Regions from separate parts of the Homo sapiens genome. Here all the other regions are linked to region 2. The links come from fine-mapping of genetic effects on gene expression. A gene starts in region 2. Each other region holds a variant in brackets. All regions are shown on one strand. Distances are between the middles of the regions. Region 1 overlaps STN1 (STN1 subunit of CST complex). Region 2 holds the start of SLK (STE20 like kinase). Region 3 overlaps SORCS3 (sortilin related VPS10 domain containing receptor 3). Region 4 overlaps COL17A1 (collagen type XVII alpha 1 chain).

What was found.
Region 1: its variant is fine-mapped to the expression of SLK in whole blood (TOPMed, PIP above 0.99).
Region 3: its variant is fine-mapped to the expression of SLK in lymphoblastoid cells (TwinsUK, PIP 0.95).
Region 4: its variant is fine-mapped to the expression of SLK in whole blood (TOPMed, PIP 0.91).

What each region holds. Positions count from the first base shown.
Region 1 is chr10:103,874,605-103,882,260 of GRCh38, reverse strand. STN1 (STN1 subunit of CST complex) reads left to right here. Exons shown (of 10, transcript NM_024928.5): 10 at 1-4,692. Among named protein-coding and RNA genes, the nearest start is that of SH3PXD2A, 23 kb to the right of the region's middle. The variant C/T (reference allele first, on the strand shown) is at 2,598.
Region 2 is chr10:103,963,065-103,970,720 of GRCh38, reverse strand. It overlaps SLK (STE20 like kinase), which reads right to left and starts at 3,581. Exons shown (of 19, transcript NM_014720.4): 1 at 2,826-3,581. The coding sequence starts at 2,975. It overlaps LOC102724351 (a long non-coding RNA gene), which reads left to right and starts at 3,676. Exons shown (of 5, transcript XR_007062282.1): 1 at 3,676-4,940. RefSeq lists silencers at 3,060-3,159, 3,170-3,219, 3,260-3,719.
Region 3 is chr10:104,701,482-104,709,137 of GRCh38, reverse strand. The region is part of intron 1 of SORCS3 (sortilin related VPS10 domain containing receptor 3); the gene reads right to left. Among named protein-coding and RNA genes, the nearest start is that of SORCS3-AS1, 39 kb to the right of the region's middle. The variant AC/C (reference allele first, on the strand shown) is at 3,912.
Region 4 is chr10:104,029,939-104,036,810 of GRCh38, reverse strand. It overlaps COL17A1 (collagen type XVII alpha 1 chain), which reads left to right. Exons shown (of 56, transcript NM_000494.4): 48 at 179-319; 49 at 1,248-1,337; 50 at 1,438-1,548; 51 at 2,044-2,190; 52 at 2,477-2,866; 53 at 3,436-3,573; 54 at 3,843-3,905; 55 at 4,057-4,137; 56 at 4,521-5,525. The coding sequence ends at 4,576. Among named protein-coding and RNA genes, the nearest start is that of MIR936, 15 kb to the left of the region's middle. The variant C/T (reference allele first, on the strand shown) is at 3,200.

The DNA of each region.
Region 1 (7,656 bases), 88 kb after region 2:
CTTCAGGTTATCAGAGACCTTCCTGTGGGCCTCTCTTGCTGGCTAAGAACCGGTTTAGGGGAGTAGTTCTCCCTGGATGAGTGCTTACAGTTTCTGTGGCTCAGTTACCAGCAGTGGGGTTGAGACCTGGGTCGATGCTCTTTACAGGCCTGCCCAGAGATGGGAATAAACAGGGATCCACAGCGTGACTATGTGTTTGTCATTTTCCTTTTATTTCCTTGGGAATCGAAAGGTGTCCCAGTACATTTCCCTGCACTTACAGAGGTGCATGACTAAATACATTGTCCCTCGATGCCCCTGAAGATCACGGAGGCAGTCAGCCAATTGCCTGGCAGGTGGTAGATGTTATTTTCAGGGTTGCCGCTGAGTGTGCAGGATGTGCTGACACCATCCAGACAAAGACTCGGTATGTGCCCAGACAGGTGATGGAGTCATGCTTTTGCTCAGAATGACAAGGTAAAGGAAAAACATCTGAGGTATGTTGTAGGCCTGTTCTGACAGCAAAATGACAAATCCAGCCAGCAAAAATAAAGTGTGGAGAAAGATTTGGAGTTAATTACAGTCATTTCACAGAAGGCACTGCCTTCGTCTGCTGCATTTGCTCTTGATGTGATAAGCTCTTCGTGGCTCAGCTGGAGATCCTTTAGGCCTGGAGAGTTGCTCCTCTCTCCGTGGAAACAGGACAGTCTTTATACGCAGAAGTCCGCTGCAGCTCGATACGTCAGGCTGAGAGCTAGAACCAGTAGATTGCCTCCTGTCATAGACTTTTGTAATGATGCAAACCTTTGCTGATTTCTAACAGTGATTATGTAGTGGCTGCCCTGCATCTTCTCTGTGTACAGAAGGGTCCCTAGCATAGAGTCTGCCTGGAATGATGTCCTGGGCAGTTCTTCCTTGAGGTCAGCAGCTGTTCCACGTTGAATGCATCTGATTAGTGGGGCTGCCCAGGAAGGAGTTCAGAATCAGAAGGTAAAAAGGGCATACCCTTGCCTATAGCAACTCTGCTCTTAGGGGTTTATCTCAAGGAGATGGCTACACAAGTGTGAAAGGATGGTTGCACAAGGTGTTCATTGCTGTATAATCTAGAATTCTATATTGGGGAAAATACCTATAGGGAAAAAGTTAATTACGGTTCTTGGGCACAATGAAATACTATGCAGCTATGAAAAAAATGATGAAAGCAGACAGACAGTGTTGCCATGGCACACTGTCCCTAGTAGATTTAGTGGGAAGTAGATAGAGTTATAGATCTGTTTCTATAGTATAACACCATTATCTACAGCTCCCTGTGTGTATGTATATATCCGTAGAGAGAGTGTATATTTCTGCATGGAGGTCTTTATAAATGTAGCACATGTACATATATATATATATACACACACACAGTCGACCACTCCCTTCTCCTGGAAGTACTTTCCGCGTTTGGCTTTCAGGACACCAAGCTCTCTGGTTGCTCCTTCTCAGGTTCCTTTGTTCAGTGCTCTGCCTCCCTGAGGACTCAGTCCCAGACCTCTTTTCTATCTGGCTTGCTCACTGGGGTGTCTCCAGCAGCCACATGGATTATACCATCTACATGCTGTCTAACACCTCAGTTTAAACCCAGAATGGGCCTCTTCCCTGAACTGCAGACCCCTATATTCAGTTTGCTACTGACATCTCCACTTAGGTCTCTAATGGACATCTCAGATTTCACAGGCCCAAAGCCAGGCTCCCAATTACTCCTGACCCCAGGCTTGCTCCTGATAGTGACATGAGGCAGCCAAATGCCTAGGCAGAGAGGGGAGGGTCCCAAATGAAACCCCACGTTCAAGCAAAGATCAGCCTGAAGGCTAAAAGACCAGATTGCTGGTCCTGGATGAAACCCACCACGCAGAGTGGGAACTTCTGTTCCTGTTTGCCCACCCTTTCCCAATTGTTCTTTCTGAATAACGCCTTAACCAATCGAATGTTGCCTTTTCCAGTAATACCTACAGCCTGCCCCTCCCCCCATTCTGAGCCCATAAAAAGACCCAGACTCCCCCATATTAAGGGGACTTTCCTGCCTTTGGGTAGGGGGACCACCCCCACGTCTCCTCTCTGTTGAAAACTGTTTCATCACTCAATAAAACTCCCAGCTTTGCTCACTCTTCCACTGTCAGCACATTCTCATTCTTCTTTGGTGCTGGGCAAGAACTCAACCAGTGTGGAAGCCATACTTGGCCCAGGCGGGTGAAGTGGGCGGGCCGTCTCCTGCAGCAGGTAGCATGGTCAAGCGAGGCCCAGGTGGGCCGTCACCAGCCAGAGGTCCCTGGCTTGCAAAGTGACCGAGAAAAAAATCCTGTGCCACTCCTTTGGAAAATGTCCCTGATTCAGGAAGAGGTAGCTCCATCCAGTTGCTCAAACCAAATCCATTGGCTTCTTTCTTTCTATCATACCTCACATCCAATCTGTCTGCAAGTCTTTTGGCTCTACCTTCAGAATATCTCCAGAATCTTAACTGCTTCACCCTCCTCCCCGGCCTCCTCAGTCCTCTCTGCTTCCGCCCTGGCCCCTCTTGGGCTGTTCACAGCACAGCAGCTGTTGCCACCCTGTTAATGCTCCCACTCTCCTACAGCCTT[C/T]GGTCTTGCCCCAGGTAGGAGCCTGAGGCTGCACAGAGGTCAGCACGGCCCCGCTTACCCTGCCCTCCCAGCCCAGCCGCACGGGCCTTGCACACATGCCTCGGCATATTCCTGCCTTAGGGCTGGTGCTCCTGCTATTTCCTCTTCCCAGGTAACCATGTGAAGTGCCTCCCTCTGCCCTCTTTCCAGCCTTTACTTGAGTGTCACCTTCTCAGTGAGGCCTGCCCTCATTCCTCTTTCGCTGTTTGCAACCCATCTCCTGTCCCCCTTCCCAGAACTCCCTTTCCTACTTCGTTTTTCTTCACAGTACTTGATACTGCCTAACACACTCCATGGTTTCTTACTTGCCCTGTTTATTATTTTCCCCCAATAGACAGAATGTTCCATGATGGCAGAATTCTCTGTTTTGTTTCCTTCCATGTCCCCAGCACCTAGAACAGTGCCTGACGCATCTCCTAAGCAATACGACCAATAAGTATGTGTCTGGCTGCCTTCCGGCTGCCAGTGTCTGCCTCTTTCCTAGGGGCAGTGGTTGCGGGGGTGCTTTCTCACATGTCTTAGTAGGCTGTGCAGGCTGGAAGTGCTCAGAAGTCACACCCCCAGGGAGCAGCCTCAGCCAACAGCACCTTGGCTGTAAATGCCCCAGCTCCCTCGCCCTCAGGTAAGCATTGCTGAGGCACACGTTCCATACTCTTTTCCACAGTTCCTCCGTGGGACTGAGCACCACCCAGCCACCCACAGGAGCAGCTAACCTGATAACCACCAGCCTCACCCTCCCTGCCTTACTTCCCCGCTCCCCTTTACCACATGCTGACCTCCCAGATGCATTTCTTGCTTTCCGGTCTCTGTCTCAGGATTGGCTCCTGGATGAACACAAACTAACACTATGTTCACAAATATATTTGGGAAATGCTGGATGAATAATTATACACATCAGACAGATTACTAGAAATTCTCACCAAAGGGATGCACATGTTACCTCTGCATGGTGAGATCTCAGGTGCTTTTTACCCCACATAGCTATCCTTTGGCATTTTTATAATTAGCAAGTGCTCACTCTTCCACTGTCAGTACATTCTCATTCTTCTTGGGCGCTGGACAAGAATTCAACCGGTGTGTAAGCCAGACTCGGCCCGGGCAGTCTCAAACTCCTGACTCCTTATATAATTTCTACAAAAATTATAAAGCTATTTCCCACTCCCCACCCCACATTCATGTAACCTGAAGCATGAGTAAACCAAGAATGAGGTAGGCCTCTGTCTTCTAAGCAACATCAGAACTCTAAGAACATGAGGGACTCTTAGAAAACTCTCTGGAGCTAACCACAGCTGGGTCACTGCTCATGTACTGAAGACCAGCCAGAGGGTTCCCCTGAAAAGGAGGGAAACTGAGCAAACATTCTCCAGTTCTCTTAGTGTGCACATGTTTCAGGAGGTGTGAACCCCACATGTAGCTTGTGTAGGCAAGAAGACAAATAGTGCTACTGTCTGGTCAAGGATTTGTTTGAAGAGCCATGATTATGCCCATATGGTAAGCCACCAGTGCTCCCCATCCCTGTAAGACACTTCTTTCTCATTATTTTCTCCTCTGATGGTGTGCCAGGATGCTGGCCAAGAGAAGCCAAGTGGAAAGAAGGCTGTTCAGTGACAAGGAACCTAAGACTTAGTGCCAAGGACTGAAACCAAGTAAACTTGTAATTTTCCATGATGGAAACATCTACACTTTCTCATTAGTGGCCTCTACAGCAGTTGCCCCAAAGAAGCGTCTCATTGTTTTTTTACTACATTTATGTGAAGCATACAGGCAAACTCAGAAAGACTGTGATAAGGCTCGCCAGAGATGCCTGCACAGGTGCTGGGGGAAAAGCAGGACCATCCTGAAGGGAGATGGTGTCTGTGGACAAAGAACTCTGCAGTGGTTCTTATTTGCATGATTTCTGCTGGTGGAGGCTGTAAATGTGAGCTCAAACTCCCACATAAGTGAGTTTTCATTGTAATCCAGAATGTTTTTAAATCACCCTACTTCTATTGAACTTGCACTATCATCTGTTAACCTCTACTGTATTTATTAAATAAACCTGAATAGGTAAATCACAGTACAGCAAAAGGTTCTGTGTTCCCCAGAATTCTAATCAAACTCCAAATTCCTGAAAAGGCTCTAGTCCTTTCCTATATGTCAAATTTAAATGATAAGTTTTCATTTTGGAACATAAAGAGGGATTTTGAAGACCACAGCATAGCCCTGGGTTTTTGCATAGAGATAATAAACAGACAATCTCTTTTCAGACTGATTTGAGAAAATGTCAGTGTGAATTGGTGAAAAATCTGGGTTGGAAATAGTGCTGTTGTATTACTTCAGGTCTACCCAATGGTCTTTATTAAACCTGAAATACCACGAAGGAACAGGTTTCTGCTCTTAGGGAATTTGCTTTAATAAGAATTAATTGTGTACCAGTTATTAGTATCATTTGATTATTATGTATTTATCATTTAATATTTAGGTGATGTAAAAGTACTTCAACGCAAGAGAATTGAAAACATGGCCACACAAACACTTGTAAGCAAATGTTCACAGCAGCATTATTCCTAATAACCAAAAAGTAGCAACAACCCAAATGTCCATCAGCCAATTAATGGATAAACAAAAGGTGGGCTATCCATACAATGCAATATTACTCAATGAAGTACTGATATATGCTAAAGCATGGTGAACCTTGAAGAAATTAAGTGCAAGAAGCTAGACACAAAAGGCCACATATTGTATGATTCCATTTATATAAAATGTCCAGAAAATAGGCACATACACAGAGAAGAAGTAGATGAGGCTGGGTGCAGTGGCTCACGCCTGTAATCCCAGCACTTTCAAAGGCCAAGGTGGGCAGATCACCTGAGGTCAGGAGTTCAAGACCAACCTGGCCATGGCTAAACCCTGTATCAACTAAAAAGTACAAAAGTTAGCCAGGCGTGCTGGTGGGCACCTGTAATTCCAGCTACTCGGGAGACTGAGGCAGGGAGAATTGCTTGAACCCGGGAGGCAGAGGTTGCAGTGAGCCAAGGTCATGCTACTGAACTCCAGCCTGGGTGACAAAGCGAGACTCTGTCTCAAAAAAAAAAAGTAGATGGTGTGGCCAGGCATGGGGAGGGTGGGGATTGGGTGGTACAGGGCTCCTTTTGGGGTTAATGGACGTGTTCTGGAATTAGATAGTGGTGATGTGTGCACGACTCTGTGAACAGACTCAGAATTATGGGCTAGGTTGGGATTCCTCACATCATGGTGTCTGGGTTTCCAGGGCAGGCTTTCCAAGAGATAGCAAGATAGCAAGAGCCACACGGAAGCCACATGGCCCTTTTTCTGTAGCCCCAGAAGCCACAGCCTCACTTCCATGGCCTTCTAATTGTTGAGGCTATCACAGTCCCATGCAGGTTCGAGAGGAGAGGAATAAACTCCACCTCTTGATGGGGAGTAATGAGGTTCCAGAAGGGCATATAGGTCCGGGAATATTACCCTGGCCACATTGGAAAATACAGTCTCTCACAGATATCTTTCAGCTTTTATATAAATACAGCATCATTATTTAAAGAGCTAGTCTTAAAAATACCAAAAAAGTACAAAGAAGGGGAAAGAATGGTCTACCACTTCCCAAATACCGTGTGTATGTATGTGTGTATATATATGTGTATATACATATCTCTCTCTATATATATAAGTATGTGTGTATATATGTGTGTGTGTGTGTGTGTGTATATATATTTAGGTGATGTATGTATACATACATATAGAGAGAGAGAGAGAGAGAGAGAGAGACGGAGTTTTACTCTTGTTGCCCAGGCTGGAGTGCAGTGGCATGATCTCGCCTCACCGCAACCTCCACCTCCCGGCTTCAAGCAATTCTCCTGCCTCGGCCTCCCGAGTAGCTGGGATTTCAGGCATGTGCCACCATGCCCGGCTAATTTTGTGTTTTTAGTAGAGATGGGGTTTCTCTATGTTGGTCAGGCTGGTCTCGAACTCCCGACCTCAGGTGATCGGCCCGCCTCAGCCTCCCAAAGTGCTGGGATTACAGGTGTGAGCCACTGTGCCCAGCTTACTGTGTATATTTTTAAGATTATATATATATTGTTAGGAAAATAACCATGTTAACAATATTTTTGTGTATCCTTCCAAAAAAAAGTCAGCGTTTTATATGCACTTCACATTTTTATTAATGCTATATTTTGGAAGTCTTTTTTTCTTTTTCACTTTAGCATGCAAAATCAGCATCTTTTAAAATGGTGACATAATTCCATCGTATTGCTGTTCCATAATGCACTTAGCCAGGGCCCTATTAAAAAACATTTAATTGGTTTCCAATTTGTTGCTATTGCAACCAATTCTGCAGGAAACATTTTTCTTTTCTTGGTATATGTTTAAAGTATGTTTGTATGGTAAATTTCTAGCAATGGAACTGCCAGGAAAAGGGGCATGAGCTTTTTAAAATTTGCATAGGCACTAACAAATTACCCAGTAAAAAGACTGATCCATCGTACACTCCTATCAATGATTTATGCGTCTACTGTTTACCCACGAGCTCACCCACAGTTTGTATTATCAGTATTTTTAGTCCATGTCCATCTGATAGGTGAAAATGATTTCTGGTTTCTGTTTGCATTTATGTTTTTTTAGTATGAGTAGTGTTGAGCATCTGTTCATCATGGGAGCCTTTAGATAAAGTTCTACCCTGGACAGTAGCCATTGCTTCCAGCAGGGGCTACAGACGGCCAGGCATGTGTTCTAGCAGTGGTATCTACTGCGGAACCAGCCCAGAGCGCAGCTGCCAAGGTGCCAGTTAATACACAGCTGGAATAAACATCCGGAAGAACTCAAAACTCAAAATTCCAAACCTGCCACTCCAAGTGCTTGGTCACATGCCCACCCAAATATTAAAAATAATAATGTGTTACAACAATGATGGTTTTATTTATTTTTCTTTTTTCTATATCACAAGTCATCAAGCAAAGAAAGGACAGCAATCTTTTTAAAACCAGCCACCATATTATTGACTCAGACCTCTCATAGACCAGAT
Region 2 (7,656 bases):
TACATACTACTACGTACTATGTTAAGGTTCCATAGCTTTTTCTTCCAAATATAAGGAAGTTTATAAATCCTCAATTTCTATGGAATCTTGAAAAACAAAAACTTTTAGAAAAAAGAGGCCATAAGAAGACAGATAAGTTTTAATTTCAAATTTTATTTTTTAAAAAACTCATACCCTACTCCTTAGAAGCAGAGAGTAGTGAAATGAAAAAAGAAAAAATAGTGCCAGCCCGTGCTCTTCAAATATCATACTAAAATACAGTCATCAAGATCACAGAAATTCTCCTTGACACAATTTTATAGTGCTCAAATAACTACATGAAATAAGACTCTTGTTCTTCAGAAATTTTTCAATTAATGTCTCAGTACAGGAAGATAGATCACATTTTGCAGAAAGTGTCATGAAAGAATAACACAGGGCTTTAGTATCTCCACACAGTCTGCCCATGCCATTAGAAACCAACAAAATGGTTTATTATCTTCTTGGTTCCTTTCCCTATCTCATCCCAAAGTTTGCATCTATGAGCTCTAAATGTAATAACAGTAATTTCTACCATTTACTGAGCCCTTTCCATGTGCCTTATATTATCTTTTTCAATCCTCACACTGAGGATGTCTTATGGATGAGCAAAGTTAGGCACAGGACAAATAAGAAACTTGCTCAAGGTCATATGCTGCTATTGAGTGAGAGAGCTAAGTTATATTCCAACTCCAGAGCCAGTGCTCTTACTACTAAGCTGTTTATATTCGATAAAACTTATTTACACCATGAAAACTGCCCATAATCACCTACCACCTTCTAACTACAAGATTCTAGGTGCCTTGAGCATTTATTTTTGCCTTTCCAGGCTAATTACATACTCACAGAACTTTAATGGGTGAAAGAATCTAAACTCCTAAGAAAGTTAATATTATGGCTAAGAAAACGGAGGTCCAGAGAAGTTAAGTGTTTTGTCCAGGATTACAACGCTGGTTTGTGACAGCCAGCACTAAAACACAACTCTTGATTCCCAGGAGTGATCTTCCCACTACAATGAAGCCTTGCATCTTATGAAGCTCTTGCTGAAGCCCATACTCTACCCTCCACACAAATAACAAAGCTTATTTTGCCAACTTCCACAGCCTATGATAGCTTCCACGACAGCATTCATATGCAGACAAAACACATTCTTTCATTTCAACAAATAAACAGACACATCACTATACGCTAAGGCAGTGAATGAACCCAAATATGTATCATAATTTTGGCCCTTAATTTTATTATAGAAACATAAACATATTAATTGTAATAAGTGACAAGTGCTATAATAGCCATGTGAACAACGTGTTCTGAAAGCACACAGAGAGGAGTAGATATTTTAGCCTGGATAAAGAATGAGGACTGGGGTTTTGACAAGATGCATTTGAGGCAGGGCAGAGGCAGAAGTGTAATGGTGCTTAGAAAGTAGTAGGCAGCCGGGGACGGTGGCTCACGCCTGTAATCCTAGCACTTTGGGAGGCCGAGGCGGGCGGATCACCTGAGGTCGGGAGTTCAAGACCAGCCTGACCAACATGGAGAAACCCTGTCTCTACTAAAAATACAAAATTAGCCGGGCATGGTGGCGTATGCCTGTAAACCCAGCTACTACGGGAGGCTGAGGCAGGAGAATCGCTTGAACCCGGGAGGGGGAGGTTGCAGTGAGCCGAGATCGCGCTATTGCACTCCAGCCTGGGCAAAAGGGGCGAAACTCCGTCTCAAAAAAAAAAGAAAGTAGTAGGCAAAATGCTCTCATTTCTACCAGTGACTGTTAAAATAAAAAACAATACTAAATATGGGCTCAGAAGACCTGAGTTCAAGTCTAGGCTGAGACTCATGTGACTGTGAACAATTTCAATATCTTCATCTGTGAAATGTGGATACTAATACTGACCTGCCTACCTCACAAGATTTTTGTGGGGGCCAAATTATTTGAAAGTACTTAAAAACTTCAAAGTCCTGTATAAACATAAGTTATTTTCTTACGTTTTCACTTCTAGGCAACCCTGTGGGTCCTTCCCCTAAACGCTGTCTCATAAAAAATTCGCCCTTCAGGATGAAAATACTCCAATGACATCATTCATATGTTCCTTAGGAGATATTAAATAGTTAACATTAATGCCTTCAGGTTGAAACGCCAAGCCTCTTTCTATTGAAATAAATACATGCGTGTGTGTTTTTAACTGCTTAAGCGCTGATACTGACTTCTAGTCAATGCTTACCATAAATATATTTAAAACTAGTACCACATGAAGGTTTTTTGGAAATTTTGTCAGAAATTCCATTCTATTTTATAGTATGCTGTCAAGCAACTAACTCAAGAAGAGACTGCAAGTAGCAATCACTTTGATCCCAACTAGTTCTGTATTAGCTCTAGATACAACCAAATATATATACTGGACCCTAAAAACAGAACTGTTGGAGTACAAGCATGCACGCGAATGCAGTCAGTAGACAAATCCACTGCAAAGTGCAATGAGTTTCTCATTCTAAAATACTTGAAGGGCACAACCAGACCCCTCCTATAAATTAAAGAACACTCTCATTTCCTTTGAAGTTTGAAAGAGTAGACTTTATAACCCTGTCTCCTTTTCCAATCGCTCTTTAAACTCCATCCAGGCCCCATTTTGTTCCACCGTAAACCCGACTTCTTAGCTACTCCTTGGATGATCAGCCAAGTAAAGTTGCATCGAACCGTAACAGTCAAAAGAAGGACAGGATAAGGACCAGGGGAGCAGAAGTCCTCCCGCCACTCCAGGCCAGTGGCTGTTTTACCTTCGCAGTACAACTTCCCGTTTTCCCCCTCTTACCTTGTACACTTTCCCAAAGGCTCCGTCGCCCAGTTCTCCTATAATCTCCCAAAAGTCTTCGGGGTTCAGGTCCCTCTTCACGTGTTCGTACTGCTTCTTCTTCTTCTCGCTCCCCAACTTGAAGATCTTACGGAAATTGAAGAAGGACATTTTTCCTCCCAACACAGAGTTCCTTGCACTTAAGGACTAAAAACAATAAAAGGCAAAGTTTCTCTTCCCTGCTCTCCCGCGCGAGCCCGGCTGGCGGCGGCGGGCGCGGCGTCCCTCGGCCCCCGCAGCTCCGGCCGGGCGGTCCCGGGAGAAGGCGGGGCGGCGACCCGGGCTCCGGCCCGCGGTGGGGGTGCTGCGCGAGCGGCCCCTCCGCCGAGCCCGGCCCGCGAGCCGCGCGGTGGGCGCCTCGCCTCCGGCCCACCCTCCGGGAGCGGCACCTGCCCGCAAGCTCGCTCCCACCCGGCCTGATCCGACGGGTCCGAGCGGTCAGGACTCCCGCGGCGGCGGCTTAGGCCCGTGTCACGGCGAGTCTCCAGGGGCGGCGGCCACTCTGGGAGAGAGAAGCGGCCGGCGGCCTCGGAGGCGGGCAGTCGAGAAGCCGAGCCCTCCCGCCTCGGGCCGCGAGCCTAGGGTCTCCTCCGCCGCCGTCCGCTCCCGCGGCGCAAGGCCCGCGCGTCCCCTCGGGTCTGGGGCGCCGCCGCCGCCGCCTGTCTCCCTCCCCAGCCCACACAGCCTCGGCCTGGAGCGCGCGCCGACGCCGACTCCGTAGCGCGCCCGCGCGCTTTCCCGGCTGCGCGCCCGCCCGGTCACGCGCCCTGCTCACCGCGCGCTCGCGTGGGGGCGTCCCCTCTGGCCCCGCGCACGCGCGCTACGTCCCTCAGACTGGCTGCCCCCGAGGGTTCGCGTGAGCGGAGCACGGGGCTCGGGGTGCGGGGGGCTGGTGTGATGGACGCATTTGTTCTTCGGTCCCTGACGATTGTTTCTCATTTGCCCTCCAAGCCCCAAATCCTGTCAGTCCACGGCCTTGATGGAGCGGCCCCCGTGGGACGACCCTGTTGATTGTGCTAGCGGATGTTGTCTCCATTCTGGATCTGGGAAAAACTGTGGAGTGAAAGCCGGACCTGTTAGGGTTGGGACCTGAAAGCGGACTTTTTCGCTCTCAGACGGGCCCCAGGTACAGTGAGAGGGGAGTTTGTGTGGTGGTTGTGAGCTTGAGCTTTGGAGAGAGAGATCTGTGACCTTGGGCAGGTGACCTCTCCGAGCCTCGGTTTCCTCGCCGTAAAATGAAGATCCTAATAGTCCCTACCAGAAGGTTGTGAATGAGACAATAGATGGAAGCCCTTTGCGCGGCCCCTGCACCCGTAAACGCTCAATCTTAGTTCTTACTCTTGTTGTTTTAAGTGTGCAGGCAAGATAGACACAGATACATAAAAACTGTTTAAGACCACTTCTCTTTTTTTTCTTTCTTTCTTTTTTTTTTTTTTTTTTTTTTTTTGAGACGGAGTCTCGATCTGTCGCCCAGGCTGGAGTGCAGTGGCGCGAACTAGGCTCACCGCAAGCTCCGCCTCCCGGCTTCACGCTATTCTCCTGCCTCAGCCTCCCGAGTAGCTGGGACTACAGGCGCCCGCCACCACGCCCCGCTAATTTTTTTGTATTTTTAGTAGAGACGGGGTTTCACCGTGTTAGCCAGGATGGTCTCGATCTCCTGACCTCGTGATCCGCCCGCCTCGGCCTCCCAAAGTACTGGCGTGAGCCACCGCGCCGGGCCCCCACTTCTCAACTGATGACTGCGACACTCCCTTGAGGGTAAAACTAACTTCTGGCCACCTCCACAACTGTAAACCTGGTGTCACTCTTGGTGACTCCACCTCAGCTAAGGCCCCCACTTCCTGATCTGCCTCCAGCCCCCTTGGGCAGCACTCCCTGGTGGGGCAGTGTGGACGTTGGCTGGAATCCGTCAGGTGGTGACCTACCTTCCCCTCCTCCACCAGACGGGAGCTCTTTCAGGCCAGTGGTTTGTTGTTCATCAAGATATCCAAGTACCCGGCAACATTCCTGGCATATAATAGGAAGGCAGATCTGGTGAATGAATGAATGAATGGCGGTATCTGGAGCAGAGACAATGTATGTATATATTGCTATTTATATAATGTCTGCCCCCCCAGTCATTTTGCCCTTCAGCCCCAAAATGGCATAGCAAAACCCCCCTTCCAGTAAGACGCTTAAGATGATTCAATTCCTTGAGATCCTTCTATTTTTTTAAGTGTTATTGCAATATATTGATATACAATAAACTGTACATATTTAAAGTGTGCATTTGGTTTTTTTGCTAGTACTTGTTTGCTTTTTTTTAAAATTATACTTTAAGTTCTGGGATACACATGCAGAACGTGCAGGTTTGTTACATAGGTATACACGTGCCATGGTGGTTTGCTGCAAGTGTGCACTTTTATATGTTTTGACAAATGTATAGACCTGTGAAAACAATACTATAATTATTTGTAATTATTATCATTTATGGAGAAAATGAAATGCTTAAAAAATAAAATTAAATTAAAAGTACTATAATTCTACTATCCAGACACAACCATTGATAAGAACTTATATTTCAAAACAGGATTTTTTTGGTTGTGCATTAACTTTTTTCAACATGGTTGAGGTTGTATTACATAAAAAGGTTTGCATCCTGCACTTCGCATATTTCAATACAATTAATAATTGTTCTCTTCCATTATGAGATATTTAGATTATAATTCCTCTGTTTTTAATAAAATACGGATAAATATCTTTGTACACAAATCTTTTTCCACATATTTGATTATTTCCTTAGGATAAATTGCCAAAAGTAGATTTCGGTCAATGGGTATATGTCTGTTTCCTTATTTTGTTCTTTTCAAAATAGAAAAGACTTTACTATTTTGTCAATTAAAAGATAGTGTATTACTGGCTGGGTGGGGTGGCTCACACCTATAATCCCAGGCTGAGGTGGGAGGATTTCTTGAGCCCAGGAATTTGAGACCAGACTGGGCAACATGGCGAGATCACATCTACCAAAAATTAAAAACAGAAAAATTAGCTGGGCATGGTGGCACTCACCTGTGGTCTCAGCTACTGGGGAGGCTGAGGCAGGAGGATCACTTGGGCCCAAGAGGATGAGGCTGCAGTGAGCCATGTTTGTGCCACTGCACGTCAGCCTGGGCAACAGAGCTAGAACTTGTCTCGAAGAAAAAATAAAAATGAAAGATAGTATATTTTTGTTGTAAATAATTCAAATAATACAGAAATTATAAACTAGGAAGCTGTCTATAGTTCTGTCCTCCTTCCTTCCCCCCTACTCATAGTTACCCTCGACCTAACCACTGTTAAAAGTTAAGCCTGTGATGATGGATATGTTTATGTAATAGGCAGTGGTGATGTACAGTTATCACCCAGCTCATCTAGTTATATACATTAAGTATGAGCAGCTTATTGTATGTCAATCATAATTCAATAAGTGGTTTTTAAAAAGTCACTAGCAAAGCAAAGATAAAGTTCTGACACCATTAAGAAATAGAAATAGGCTGGGCACGGGGGCTCACACCTGTAATCCCAGCAATTTGAGAGGCTGAGGTGGGTGGATCACCTCAGGTCAGGAGTTTGAGATGAGCATGGCCAACATGGCAATACCCCGTCTCTAACAAAAATACAAAAATTAGCCGGGTGTGGTGTCATGCATCTGTAATCCCAGCTACTCGGGAGGCTGAGGCAGGAGAATCGCTTGAACCTGGGAGGCGGAGGTTGCAGTGACCTGAGATCGTGCCACTGCACTTCACCTGGGCGACAGAGCTAGACCCTGTCTCAAAAAAAAAAAAAAAGAAATAGAAATATTATCATAAATTTTTTCATATATTATGAAAAAAAGAAATGGAAATGAGCCTCTTGTAAAAGCTTTTCCTTTTAATAACATAATACATGGCCAAATAAAAAAAGTTAAGCCCATGAGCATGAGAGAATTTTGGGGGACAATAAAAAAGGGTTTTATAACTAGATTATGGTGATGATTTTACACTTAGAATGGGTGAATTATATGCTTTGTAAATTATACCTCAATAAAGCTACTTTGAAAAAGTTAGGCCTATATATGTTTTTTTCTGTGTGTATGTATGTGTATGTGTGTATATATATATATATATAAATATATATATATATATATTTTTTAAGATGAAGTTTCCGTCTGTCGCCAAGGCTGGAGTGCAGTGGTGTGATCTCGGCTCACTGCAACCTCCACCACCTGGGTTCAAGCAATTCTCCTCCTCAGCCTCTTGAGTAGCTGGGATCACAGGCGCACACCACCAAGCCCGGCTAATTTTTTGTATTTTTAGTAGAGACAGGGTTTTGCCATGTTGGCCAGGCTGGCCCTAAACTCCTGACCTCAAGTATTCTGCCCACCTCGGCCTCCCGAAGTGCTGGGATTACAGGTGTTAGCCACTGCACCTGGCCGCATGTATATCTGTTAAGATATAAAACTGGCATCATCCAATACAGATCGTTGACATCTTTCCAAGCCATCCCAAATAGATCTGTCTAATCCTTTTTTAATAGCTGCACAGAGTTCTAGTGTCTAACTATACCATAATTTATTTAAGCATTTCTGTATTGACAGGCATGACAGGCATCTAGGTAGTTTCCAATTTTTTTGTCATCATAAACAATTCCACAGTTAGTGTGCATATACAAGCATCTTTGTGTATTTGTCTGATTATATTCCCTGAAGACACAATTCAAGAAGTGGAATTGATGAGTCAAAGATCATATTAAAAATGTTTTTGCTCTGTATTGCCTAACTGGCCTCTAAAAAGAT
Region 3 (7,656 bases), 740 kb before region 2:
GAAAGAAGTAACCTGGGAAAGCTTCCAGGGAGTGTGAGGCTGGAGAATGAGTGTGAGAGACTGGAGGGCTAGACAGAATTGCTGTCTAACCAAAAGCAAAAGCGAGGAGATGGGCCAGGTGGCCAAGGCAGAGGAGGAAAAGAAGTGGCTCCACTGCACGCTAATGAGCCTCCATCATAATGTCATAATAGCAGGCGCAGCCCTCTTGCCACTTTCCCTTTTGCAATAGTACTCTGTTTTCCTGAAGTCTCTAGCAATTAAAAAACAAAATCTATATGCCTCAAAAGGGCTTTGTGATTGCCTGAGGAACAGGAGCAAAGCATGAGCTGGCAAAGGCACCCAGTGCAGTCTGAGGCCTGGAAGAAATATTATCCAAAGGAAAGAGAGATTAAAATATGGCTGCTAAAAGGAATCCCAAGTTAATGCCAGAGGCCAAAAAACTGATGATGGGGGGGAAGAAATGTGGCCAGCCCAGAGCTAGCAAGTTTTGGGAGATTTACAGAAAAACAGGATTTATGACCCAACTCCCCAGCCCAGATCCAAACATGAATTTTTGCTGGCTATATGCACCAAACAAGTTATCAGAAGCAATTTAGCAATCAGCTAAGCGAAGATACATGGACTTTCTCTTCTTTACCAACTTCTTTGGCCTAACATCTCTCATTGTATGATGACAGCTGGAAGAATAGGGAACCTCACTTACCTTGCTAGTCTGGGTCTCTTGGGAGAAAGGAGGGCCAGGACTAAGGCTGGTAAAATTCTGTGCTTAATTGCAAGACTGTGGTGGCATGCAGTGCCATCAGGAAGGCTGCACCAGGTGACACTCATGCAGCCCATATTCATTCACAGCTGTGGGTGGGCTGATCCGGGGCACCAATTATCTAATTGCTGCTAATGTTCCGTATATTTACTCAGCTGCAAATTTGCAAGATGGGGCCTGACTCACAAGAAGGGGATAATAATGGGAGAGATATTTCCATTTGAAAATTCATGAATAAGCAGCAAGAGCCCTGTTTATTAAAATTCAGATGCAGATAAACAATGAGTGTAGTTCCAGGAATAATTGCAGGGTTTCCACAGTTACAGAAAACCAGCCCCTTTGTCAACACTTCATTGTTCTATTTATACCTTGAGAGATATTGCACTGAGTTTCTATAAATACAATGGAAACTCATTCATCTCAACCCCTCTCACTGTCAAGTCCAACCTTCTCTTCAATAAAAGATCTGCATCCCAAGTGTATCTGACATTAGGTCTCAAGACTGTCATGGGCAAATCCTTCCTAATATAAGGGATAAAGAACAGGCTTGGAGTGGGCTGGGGATGGGGGAAGGGAAGCAACAGGCATTCTATTCTGGTTTCGGAAATAGGCAGGAGGCAGATACATTTTAACTAGCTCTCAGCCTTTGAGTGTTAATCTCAGTGATTAAAGGCAGGTGAAACAAACTGCCCAGGGTATCTCAACCCCTGCATGGGATAGGATCTCATCGTTGATATTCATTTATATATTTTCCTTGAATGTGATTCAGGTCCTCCTTCTATGGATGTTGGCCACCTCTCTCCTATTATATGCAAACCTGCATTGTGGTGGTCCTGAAATCTACTTCGTTGATTCCCCCTAGCCCCAAAGTACCTGGAACTACACTTTACTACTCAGTGTTAATCAGAGAGTCTGGTTCAGTGAGGGTCTTTAGATCTCAATTACTACCAAAAAGTGCCCCCATAGCAGGTTCCTGTGCTGTCCCCAGATACAATTAATATTTATAAGAATATCACATTTTTAAGTATCTTACTGAATGGCTGACACTATGTATATTACTTTACATATAAAATCTAATTATCATACCAGCTCTGTGAAGGAAGTCCTATTATTCTCTTTCTTATGGACTAAACCATGAAACACTAAGGTAAGTTGCCTAGATATACAGCTAGTAAGTAGCAGAGCCAGATTTTGTACCCACAACTATTTGAAACTAGGAAACGTGCTCTTAGCCACTACATCAGTATGTTTTTCTGGCTCTTGGACTCAATTCCCACTGCTCCTTCTTGTGGATAAGCCTGACTGCCCTGTCTCTATGCGATGCCTCAGATAGCTCACACTTCTCTCCATTAACTTATTAATTTAAGCAACCCCCACTCCAATACCACACACATATGAAAAACTTTAGTCTCTGTCTCTCTCCACAGTCCCTAGATTGCAAGAGCTGACCTTGCAACCACAGCAATCTTCCACGTGCCCACACTTACGTTTAAAAGAAAAAATCATTTTTCTTCTCACGTTTAGAAGAAAAAGTCATTATAGACCTATAGCTTATAGATGTACATGTATACATTATGTATGTGTGCATATACATGTTTATGTAGGTATAAATAAAACACATAAATGTACATATGTGTATGTGTGTGTGCATAAGCTTCTTGTGAGTGCCTCCCTATAGGTAAGGTAAATTTATCCACAGGGAAGTGGGACTATACCAGGAGAGGGACACTGATGCATACATCGCACCCCTTACCATCTGACTTCCCATATGCTACGGTGGAACCAGGTTCATTAAAGTAGTTTACACATACTGAATTTTAATACAGATAGCTTCTTTCAGTAGTATATCTCTCAAGAAACTCTAGTCTCTGGCCCGGGCACAGTGGCTCACGCCTGTAATCCCAGCACTTTGGGAGGCCGAGGTGGGCGGATCACGAGGTCAAGAGATGGAGACCATCCTGGCCAACATGGTGAAAGCCTGTCTCTACTAAAAATACAAAAATCACCTGGGCGTGGTGGTGCACGCCTGTAGTCCCCAGCTACTCCGGAGGCTGAGACAGGAGAATCGCTTGAACCCGGGAGGCAGAGGGTGCAGTGAGCTGAGATGGTGCCACTGCACTCCAGTCTGGCCACAGAGCAAGACTCCTTCTCAAAAAAAAAAAAAAAAAAAAAAAAAGAAGAAGAAAAGAAACAAACAAACAAAAGAAACTCTAGTCTCCAAACATTTCACAGGTTTCAGAGCCAAAGAAGAGGAGCTTAAACAAGAAGGAATGGCAAAGAGGTCATCCAGGGAGCAAGGAGGGAGACTTTCATACTCACTCGTCAGCAACAGCTAGCAGCCTCGGCAAGAAATCTGCACCCTGTTATTGGAGAGAGATTTCTCTTCACAGTCTCATTTTGCAGACAGTGGTTAAGTTCTAGGCTTTTGACTCGGGCCCAGCACCCCTCTAGGTAGAGGAGATGGCCAATTACGAGTTCAAATCCAGTGGTCCTGAAGCTCATATCCCCAGAAGTTCTCGACTTCCTGGATCATTCTCACATTTATTTAACAAATTATTGAATATCCACTCGAACAGGCACTGGGCTAGCTCAATCTATGTTGCTCCCTTAACTTGTGCTCCACTGAGCTGCTGGATTAACTGGGATTCTCCATTGCTTCTGATGCCTACTTCATGCTACTCCTACCAGTCGGGTCACCTGTTATTCCATTCTCATATACACAAGCACTGCTTCTCCCACAACTGAGGTATGTGTTTACAGGAGCCAACCGTGTCCATTCTCAAAACCATTTATCATTGTCATTACATGTCATTATAATTACATTGTTTAATTAAGTAATATGTAAATCAACAGAAGATGAGTACCAATAAAAGCTTCTGTCAAAGTTTAGTTAAATGTTTTGCAAAGACCTGATAAAGGTAAGTCACTTAAAAATGTAGTTGAACCTAATTCGGTGTGAGTGGGAAAAGTATAAAATACTGGGAGTAGGGAGAATCTAGAGTCTTTAAATTGCTTTCCCAGTTGGTTTCTATTCCATGAAAAAAAAAATCGGGCACTGGAAATCATAGATGATGTATTATGGATGTGAGTTAAACAAGAAAGATAATCCGGAACTCTAATCAGCAGACCAATTAAAAAAAAAAAAAAAAAA[AC/C]GAAGGCCTGCCCATATCAAAAGATGAGCAAATAAATACACATCTCTAAACTTTAAGTTAAAATAATATGTCCAGGGCATTATGTATTTTTTAATGATTCCCCTAAAGTTCAGACAAATTTTTCAATTACCAAGAATTGGTCTCCACCATAAAATACAAATGACTACAATTTATTGAGACATGGGCTATAATAGACATATCTGGGGTTGGGAAATGAGGGAAGAGGGGGTTAAGGTGGAGCATTTGAACCAGACTTGTGGTGGAGGAGGAGAGAAGAAAACCTCCAGGAAGGAAAGGGCACCTGTGTACACTCTTAAAGAGGATGCAAGAGCTAGCAAGGCAAAGTAGAGGGGGAGAGTAGGCCAAGCACCAAAACAGCATCTATAAAGGCACATAGTGCATTTGGGGATCTGCAAATGAGTTGGTATGGCTGGAACACTGAACATAAGATGGCAAAGATGATCCTTTCCACAGTTGCTTGCATGTTTGCTATTTTACAGGCACGATGCAAGGATCTGCATGGATGGAACACACATTCCCTAGAGTACTAGGGAAAAATTGGTCCATTACACTTTACAAAACCTTTTCACATTCATTCTGCAGAAAGTCTATCTTCAGAAGGCTGTAAGCAGGTCTGCCTCTAATTTGTTGACCCCTTTACCCATCCCTACCCCATCCCCAGTTTCCCTCCTCACCCAGGACCCAAAGATCTCCCTCTGTAAATATTGTAGTTGAACCTGTAGAAGTCAGCTGGGGCATGGTGACTCATTCCTGTAATCCCAGCTTTTTGGGAGGCTGAAGCCAGAGGATTGCTTGAGCCCAGGAGTTTGAGACTAGCCTGGGCAACATAGGGAGATATCGTCCCTAAAAAATTAAAACAAACAAACAAAAATAGCTGGGCATGGTGGTGCACACCTGTAGTCCCAGCAACTCAGTAAGCTGAGGTGGGAGGATCACTTGAGTCTAGGAAGTCAAGGCTGCACTAAGCCATGATCGTGCCACTGCACTCCAGCCTGGGCGACAGTGAGAGACCCTGTCTAAAAAAAAAAAAAAAAAGTCATAGAAGGAAACTTGGATGAGCTATCAGGTCTGGCTGACAACAAATCCAAAACTGGCCAAAAGGCCTCAGAGTTTTAAATAACCATGTTATTCTCCCTCCTGTTCAGTGATATTTACTTCTAAACTGAAATGCTTATCCAACCACCCAAAGGCCACTGAAGTAGGTGACAGATTAGATTACCTGATACACTTCTACACCCTCCAAGAAATTTCCTAGTAATCACAGTCGCTGCTATTTTTTTCCAGCTGGTTGCTGACAATGTTTCAAAATGAATCCTCCTACACTCTAATTTTTACCCTTGACTAGCTGACTTTAATGGTAATCTCCTCAGGTTTGGAACCCTGATGGAGTCGAAAACCTCTCTGATTTCTTTCAGAAGTGAACTTTAGTAGAAAGCAGCTCTATAAGGCCACTTTTTTTTTTCTTCATTTCTTCTTAAAAAAAAAAAAAAAAACAGGATACATGTGCAGAATGTGCAGGTTTGTTACATAGGTATACGTGTGACATGGTGGTTTGATGCACCTATTTACCCATCCTCTAAGTTCCCTCCCCTCACCCCCCACCCTCCAGCAGGCCCCGGTGTATTGTTTCCCTCTCTGTGTCCATGTGTTTTCAATGTTCAACTCCTACTTATGAGTGAGAACATGCAGTGTTTGGTTTTCTGTTCCTGTGTTAGTTTGCTGAGGATGATGGCACTGATCATCAGAGAAATGCAAATCAAAACCACAATGACATACCATCTCACACCAGTCAGAATGGCAATTATTAAAAATTCAGGAAACAATAGATGCTGGCGAGGCTGTGCAGAAATAGGAATGCTTGTACACTGTTGTTGGGAACATAAATTAGTTCAACCATTGTGGAAGACAGTATGGCGATTCCTCGAGGATCTAGAACCAGAAATACCATTTGACCTATCAGGCCACTTTTAAACTTGGTTTTCATTCTTTCCCTGCCCTGGCCCTCAACCCGAATCATTTTATCTAAACTGCCATCCAACTGGCTTTCTTGAGACTTCAACTTCTTAATAAAATGACCAAAATTTCCCTTGGACTTTGGGATGCTATTTGTTTAAAATGGTCAGGAAAATCTAACTTCTTGTATAATCAATCGATTTGAAGTGTTCTCTCCCTTACATCAACAAATTTGATCACTTGAAAGTAAGCTCTATAAGGGTAGGCCTTTCCCTGTTTTGTTTGCCATTATTTCTCCAATGCCTAGCAAAAGCCAGGGCAGGAAGTATGTGCTCACTAAAGAGAAACTGAATGAATGAATGATCCTCACAACAACCCTGTGGAATGAGCAAGCTAGATATTCGTATAGTTGAAACCAGACTCAGTGAGATTAAGTGGTTTGCTCAGGGTCACCCAGTCTAGCACTCTATTATCATTTGTCTAGTGCCATTTCACTAGACCATGTACCTGAACCCCAGCACCAGAACAGGAAGATTTTTACAGTCTTTGCTTCTGAAGAACTAAAATCAGGCCCCTGAGTACAGTCCAAGGTTCATAGCTCTTAAGATGAAAATGCAAACATTGGAAATGGAGCTCTTGGAAACATCACTTAAAAACTGTATCCTGCCAGGCACGGTGGTTCACGCCTGTAATTCCAGCACTTTGGAAGGCCAAGGCAAGCGGATCACTTGAGGTCAGGAGTTTAAGACCAGCCTGGCCAACATGGTGAAACCCCATCTCTACTGAAAACATAAAAATTTGCCAGGCATGGTGGTGGGCAGGTACCTGTATTCCCAGCTACTCAGGAGGCTGAGGCAGCAGAATCACTTTAACTTGGGAGGCAGAGGTTGCAGTGAGCTGAAATCGTGCCACTGAACTGCAGCCTGGGCGACAAAGAGAGACTAGGTCTCAAAAAGTAATAGTGATATTAATTGTATCCTGTAACACAGTTCTGAAGGGAAAAGGAAGGGAACTGGATGGCAGCTGCAGAAACCATATGAAAACACAGTGTGTTTCCATTGTGCTCAAACACAGCGGTCCGCATAGACAGAATCCAACAGACTGTATACACCAGCAGTCTGCACACTACTGCCCATGAGCCAAGTCTGACCCTCCATCTGTTTCAGTAAATAAAGCTTTATTGGAACACAGGCCCACCCATTCATGTATGCATTGTGTATGGTTGCTTTCACACAATAGCAGAGTCCAGTAGCTCACCCGGTGGCCCACAAAACCAAAATATTTACAATATGCCCTTTTACAAAAGAAATTTACCAGCTCCTCACACAAACTCACATAATAACAACATGAGCATCAACAATAGCAGCCAAAATTAAATAAAATATTACTGATGTTCAGAGTGCTGGAAAGGATAATTTTTCTACCCAATACCGAAAAAAAAATCACAAAACAAATTTATTCAATACTTGATACCTGCTTAGAAGCCTCTTGTCAATAATATCTACTCTTGCCTGAACTCTTGAACCAGACAGCTACACCCTTCATTACCACTGCACTTAGGATTAGCAATCAGTGAGAAAGCTACAGAAAACAAAGTTTTTTCATTCTATTTTGAAAGAAAAATCAGAGAAATGCACACATTGAATGCAGTACTACAATAAATGGAAACCCAGCATGCCTTGTAAAATGGTCTAGATCTCATTAAATGATTTCTTGGCTACGATCCGTTGGGCTCACCAATGGATTTGAATGGGCTCTCCAGTGAAAGTG
Region 4 (6,872 bases), 66 kb before region 2:
CCTTTGGGAACCTGGCAGCTTGCTGGTGTCCCCCCTGAACACCGTGGTCCTGCGGACCCAGAACTCACAAATGTCACGCAGGAGCCAGTTTGTGCAGGGGAGCCCAGGCTGTGGCTGGATCATGGCTGCGACCCCCATGGCCTGGGTGGGTCCTGCTAGTGCATCCTCTCCTCTCCAGGGGATGACGTGCGTCAGTACCTACGTCAGTACTTGATGGGCCCTCGGGGTCCGCCAGGGCCACCAGGAGCCAGTGGAGATGGGTCCCTCCTGTCTTTGGACTATGCAGAGCTGAGTAGTCGCATTCTCAGCTACATGTCGAGTAAGTGTCTGCAGGAGGGGTGGTTGGGAAGGGCCTGGGATGACTGGGATGAGGACTCGCAGCGTGAACTTCCCTGTGATTGCCCCACTGACCCCCACCTGCCAGACTGCACCAACCCCAGCAATGAGCAGTGCTCAGAGCCGTTCAAACCTGTGAGCCTGGAGCAGGTCAAGAAGCATGGCAAGGAAAGCCAAAACGGGGGTCTCAGGCACTGTCTCGTGTGGAGTCTACATACAACTCTCTCTCTCTCACACACACTCCCATACACACACACCCATACTCACACTCCCATACACACACACACTCACTTCCATACACACACACCCATACTCACACTCCCATACACCCATACACACACATATACACACACTCCCATACACACACACTCCCATACACACACACTCCCATACACACTCCCATACACATACTCCCATACACACACTCCTATACACACACTTCCATACTCAGACACACCCATACACACTCACATATGCATACACACACGCATTCCCATAAACACACTCCCATACTCCTGTACTCACACTCCCATACACTCCCATACACACACACTCATACACACTCCCATACACACGCTCCCATACACTCCAGTACTCACGCACACTCCCATACACTCCCATACGCACACTCCGATACACTCCCATACACACACACACTCACTCCCATACACACATACTCATACACACACACACACAGAATGAAGCACACAGGCACACTGGACCTGCTTCTCCGGCCCCGTGGGCCCCTCCGTTCCTCCTTTGGGCTCCTCCTCTCTGCCTCTCTTCCTGCCACCATCTCTTTTCTTTCTTGGACCCCACTTCTGTCCAAACCTCTTCTGTATCCGACCTCCTCTCTGACAGGTGTTTCCATCTGCCTCCCCCTGCCTGATCTGAATCCATCACCTCCCTAGGTTCTGGGATCAGCATTGGGCTTCCTGGTCCCCCGGGGCCCCCTGGCTTGCCGGGAACCTCCTATGAGGAGCTCCTCTCCTTGCTGCGAGGTAAGGCCCAGCAGGGGACATCTGTCCAACTGGTTGGGGAGGAAGCAGAGTCCCTTGGCCCAGGCCAGGACTGACTCCGTGCCCTCCCTTGGTGTCTCAGGGTCTGAATTCAGAGGCATCGTTGGACCCCCAGGTCCCCCGGGTCCACCAGGGATCCCAGGCAATGTGTGGTCCAGCATCAGCGTGGAGGACCTCTCGTCTTACTTACATAGTAGGGCACTGTGGAGTGGGATGGGGAGGGCAGGGGATGCAGCCGGGCCTTGGGGGCTCCCATGGGCTTTAGCAAGGGCAGTCTAAGTGCTCCTGGAGCCTGTACAGTGCTGGGTGCAGGGCCCTGGAGAGCGCCACATGTGCTGGCAAGGGGCCTTCAGCCGTGGCAGGGACAGAGGTGGGGAGAGATGGCTTTCCCAGGCGCAGCCCGGTGTGTGATTAGGGCCGACCTGGGGCTCCACCTCTCAGTGACTGGAGGGCTGAGTTGAATGAGGCTCAGAATTGGGAGTGGGAGAGCCTGACGGGAACAGCCATTCCTGGATGATGTCAGGAAACAGCAGGCTCTGGCCTCCTGCTTTTCTCTCCTCCCATCACCCGGGAGGCCCAGCCTCATCCCCTCCTTTCAGGTGGGGCCCACAGCGCCCCGAGCACAGGCTGGGAATTCAGCTTCCTCCGCAGCACTACCCCGACCTTTCTTTCTCTTCCTTCTGCCCAGCTGCCGGCTTGTCATTCATCCCAGGCCCTCCAGGACCTCCTGGTCCCCCAGGGCCTCGAGGGCCCCCGGGTGTCTCAGGAGCCCTGGCAACCTATGCAGCTGAAAACAGCGACAGCTTCCGGAGCGAGCTGATCAGCTACCTCACAAGTAGGTGCCCCGACGGTGATGCCCCACCAGGCACCCCGCAGGCCTTGCTTTTCCCTGTAAGTGGGGCAGGGAGGCACTTAAAGGGACAGGAAGGCCACACGAGAGCCACTGGTGGGGTAAGCCCGGTTTCCTTCCACACCAAAATTCTCCCACTCGGGTACAAGAACCCTGAAGTTCACTTCTGGTCTCTCAGGGGCATTGACACCCTGGGAGAGACTCCCTAACTCCCAAGTCTTTCTCTCCACCGAGATCTGAGCTCCCACTCATGCAGCTTCTCACCCTGCAGGTCCTGATGTGCGCAGCTTCATTGTTGGCCCCCCAGGCCCTCCTGGGCCGCAGGGACCCCCTGGGGACAGCCGCCTCCTGTCCACGGATGCCTCCCACAGTCGGGGTAGCAGCTCCTCCTCACACAGCTCATCTGTCAGGCGGGGCAGCTCCTACAGCTCTTCCATGAGCACAGGAGGAGGTGGTGCAGGCTCCCTGGGTGCAGGCGGTGCCTTTGGTGAAGCTGCAGGAGACAGGGGTCCCTATGGCACTGACATCGGCCCAGGCGGAGGCTATGGGGCAGCAGCAGAAGGCGGCATGTATGCTGGCAATGGCGGACTATTGGGAGCTGACTTTGCTGGAGATCTGGATTACAATGAGCTGGCTGTGAGGGTGTCAGAGAGCATGCAGCGTAAGTGGGGACATTTAGGCCTTGGTGCTGGGGGGAAGGAGCGTGGGAGCATCTCCAGACTGGCTTTCTTGTTTGTGGAACCCCCAGGCTGTGAAGACAGAATCAAGCAGGCAGGGGCTGGAGGGGACAGGCAGCCCCAGCCTAGCTCTCAGCCTACTCAGCTTAAGGAGCCCCAGTCCTGGGACCCGAGCTGTGGGGAACAGAGCACGCTGGGGGCTTTGTACTTTGTTTTCCCAACACCTAGCTCGTTCTGGGTCCCAGATGAGTCATATGACCATGCTGGATTTTCTGCTGGGGCCGAGAGAAGGATGTTGGCTAAGAGTCCTTTCCCCG[C/T]GCAGCTTAACGGCACAGTTACGCAGTCAACAAGCTTTTGATGCCGGCCCACAGCAGGAAGAGACCTGTGCCAGTCACACAGTGGAATACAAAGGAAGTTGGAGGGCTTCACCCTTGCTGCGGCTTGATCTAGTTCAACTGCTTTGGGAGTTTGACACTCGGAGGGCACTGTGCTCCTGCTGAAGAGGGTACTGGGAGATCCCTGCTTCCTGTGCCCAAGCTCTGGTGTTTTACAGGTCAGGGCCTACTGCAAGGGATGGCCTACACTGTCCAGGGCCCACCAGGCCAGCCTGGGCCACAGGGGCCACCCGGCATCAGCAAGGTCTTCTCTGCCTACAGCAACGTGACTGCGGACCTCATGGACTTCTTCCAAAGTAAGGGCATCCAACTGCTTTCCCAGCACCTGCCTCACTGCATAGGTTCCCACGGGTCTGCTCCAGAGACACCAGTCTCATGAGAAATCTCCAGTTATTAACATTTGAGATGCTCAAAATTAGACAAATTCTATAAATTCTGAACTTTGTTTCCTCTTACACGTCCAAACTCCATCACTATCTCTCTGTGTTACTCTGAACAAATGACTTGATGTCCCAAGCTTCCAGGTGATCAAGACTCTAAGGCCAGTGTTTCCTTGCTTTTGCAGCTTATGGAGCCATTCAAGGACCCCCTGGGCAAAAAGGAGAGATGGGCACTCCAGGACCCAAAGGTAAGTGGTGGCAGAGAGCCAGTCCCTGGATCCTGTGTTAACACCCACCTCGTACTGAAAAGCAGCTCCTGTGCTGGTGCCACACCGGCTACCTGTGCCCTCAGTCCCCAGACTCATGTATTACTTAGTTACGCCCCATTTTTCCTTCCAGGTGACAGGGGCCCTGCTGGGCCACCAGGTCATCCTGGGCCACCTGGCCCTCGAGGACACAAGGGAGAAAAAGGAGACAAAGGTAAGTGTTGACTGCTCCACGTTTTGCATGTTCTGGAGGGCTGCAAGGCTGACGCTCATTAGAGAAGCAGGTGATTTGTTCCAGAGCAAGCCTGAGAAATTCAGGCAAATGCCAATTACTCCAGGCAGACACTGCCAAAAGCAGAATTTGCATAACAATCCCATTCACAGTGAGGAAGAAAAGGAGAGTGTCAAAGCAGGGAGGAAAAGGAGAACCAAGCTGGTGTTGAAATGGGGCAAACAAGTTAAATAAATGTAGTCTTACAAAAGATTTCACCTTTGAAGCCATCTTTGCAGTAGTCACGGTTGCCATAATTGCCCAAGCCAAGATCCCCACAGGCCACAAGATATGTTTTAACTTCCTACTGATCTTCTAACTTTCAGGTGACCAAGTCTATGCTGGGCGGAGAAGGAGAAGAAGTATTGCTGTCAAGCCGTGAGCTAGCCATGGCAGGACAGCTCCTGGACCAGGTCTCATAATGCATGTGGCACTTAGGTCCAAGGTCTCCAGAGGGTGAAAGCTGGAGTCTGTCAATGTCCTACTGAGACAGCACAGCCAACCTAGCTAGCAACATTTGTTTTAGTCTGAACAATATATACTTATAGAATTCAGTCAAAGATACACAATCTGAAACAGCTTCATGGGGTGGACTCTAACAGTAGTTGCAATGTTTTAGAATGAGACTTACTTCTCTGCTATCTAGATCTGAACTCCTTGGCTTCTTTACTTAGTTCAAGCCCCAGCCTAGGAAAGCCAGTTACATAAAAGTTGGCTCAGGAGTCTTAGAGCTTTACCTAAATATGAGCCCAGAAAACGGAGGATGGGGGTGGGGCGCCTTCCTGGAGGTGACACTTGATGGGGGTGTGTTCTGGTTACTGTTCTAAGGCTGTGCCATCAGCTCCTTCCTCCCCTGTTCATTCTGCATTCTCTAGTCAGTTGGCTAAGAAGTGACTCTTGCAACTAAAAAAATTAAGAAATTCACTTCCCCTCTAGGAGGTGATGATAGGGTTTCTAATGGTTATATGTATATCACATTCCCATTTGCTTAGAAAGTCTGATTGTAGCTATGATTGTCCGTAGGCCCATACTAGAGTTCATGGATATGTTATACTGAACCAGGCCAGAGCAAACAGAAAAAGAAGGTTGAGGGCAATGGACAAGGAAGGAATAAAGGGAGAAGAGGGAAAACAGAAAACCTGATGCTGGGGACACAGCATCAGCTCAAGACGTCACCCTCCATTCTGCACTCAGAAAATGGCACTTGGGGGACTGGGCGCAGTTGGTCTTTAACCACTTTTCAATGTCTAAAAACATTTGTTTGTGGTCTATAAGATGAAACATCATTTCAATCGTAAAATTTCCCATTAAAGAAGTTTTTTTTTCTAATATCATGTTTAATGTGATTCGTCTGACCAAAGAAAGATTAAAAAATAGTCTGGGTTAATTGGGTCTGATTCTAACACTGTTTATTACAAACACAAGAAAACAAAAGTGGTTGTATTTTGGGGCATAGCTTCTGGTATTTCATTCAATCCCTGAGGTCTTCAAAGGCAAATCTTTAGATACCTGCAACTATGAACTCAATCTGGGGATTTTACAAAGCACATGAAAGTTTTCCCCAAGCATAAGTTATTTGAAATAAACATGCAACAAATGAGCAAGAAGATTACTTGCAATTAGGTAGTGCTTTATCCTGGGGCAATGGAATTATGATTGTAGGGCAAGTAATATATGGAATATAGAAACTTCTATTAAAGAAAAATGTACAAATCTCAAATGCCCCAAAGAAATGCACAGTAAAATCAGACACTCCAATTGAGAAGAGACTCTACTTAGCCACTTTGTGAATTTGTTACAAGTTGTGACTCTCAAATTGCTGGATAATTAAAAATGGGATTAAATTGCATCTATTTCTACACCACTACTCTTCTAAAAAGACTTTATTTTCCATAAGGTCTCTGCTGAGTATCTCATATTATCCCAGAAAAAACACTCCACTTGTTTCCTCTATATCAAACAACCGCTAACGGCAACAACCAGTCAAGCACTACACACTCTACGTGGTCTTTTTGCCTCTTTTATTATATCCTGATAATTGCCTGCTATGAATTAATGAGAATTTTTTAAAAATAAGGCTGGGCGCGGTGGCTCATGCCTGTAATCCCAGAATTTCGGGAGGCCGAGGCGGGCAGATTGCTTAAGCCCAGGAGTTCGAGACCAGCCTGAGCAACATGGCAAAACCCCATCTCTACTAAAAATACAAAAAAATTAGCCGGCATGGTGGCGGGCACCTGTGATCCCAGCTACTCGGGAGGCTGAGGCTGAAGAATCACTTGAACCCAGGAGGTGAAGGTTGCAGTGAGCTGAGAACGTGCCACTGCACTCCAGCCGGCAAGACTCCATCTCAAAAAATAAAACAAAAATAAAATAAAAATTAGTTCATACAGCCTCCAGATTTCAAACAACTTGAGTTTTACTAAGCAAAACTATTGTGTATAATAAAGGAATTGTGCTTTTTAAATAATTTTTTTTCAAAAGAATTCATTAGTTTTACCCAAAGGCTGAATTTTTTACTTTTTAATTGTAGCTTTTACACTTATTAAAAGTAACTTCCAAAAAAAGGGGGGAAAAAGATGTTTTGACCCTTTAAAAAAAAGTAGCTTTAGGGGTTCAAGTATTATATCCCCTTTAATAGTGATCCTTATCTTGATTAATCAAGACATAGGAGTTTTTTC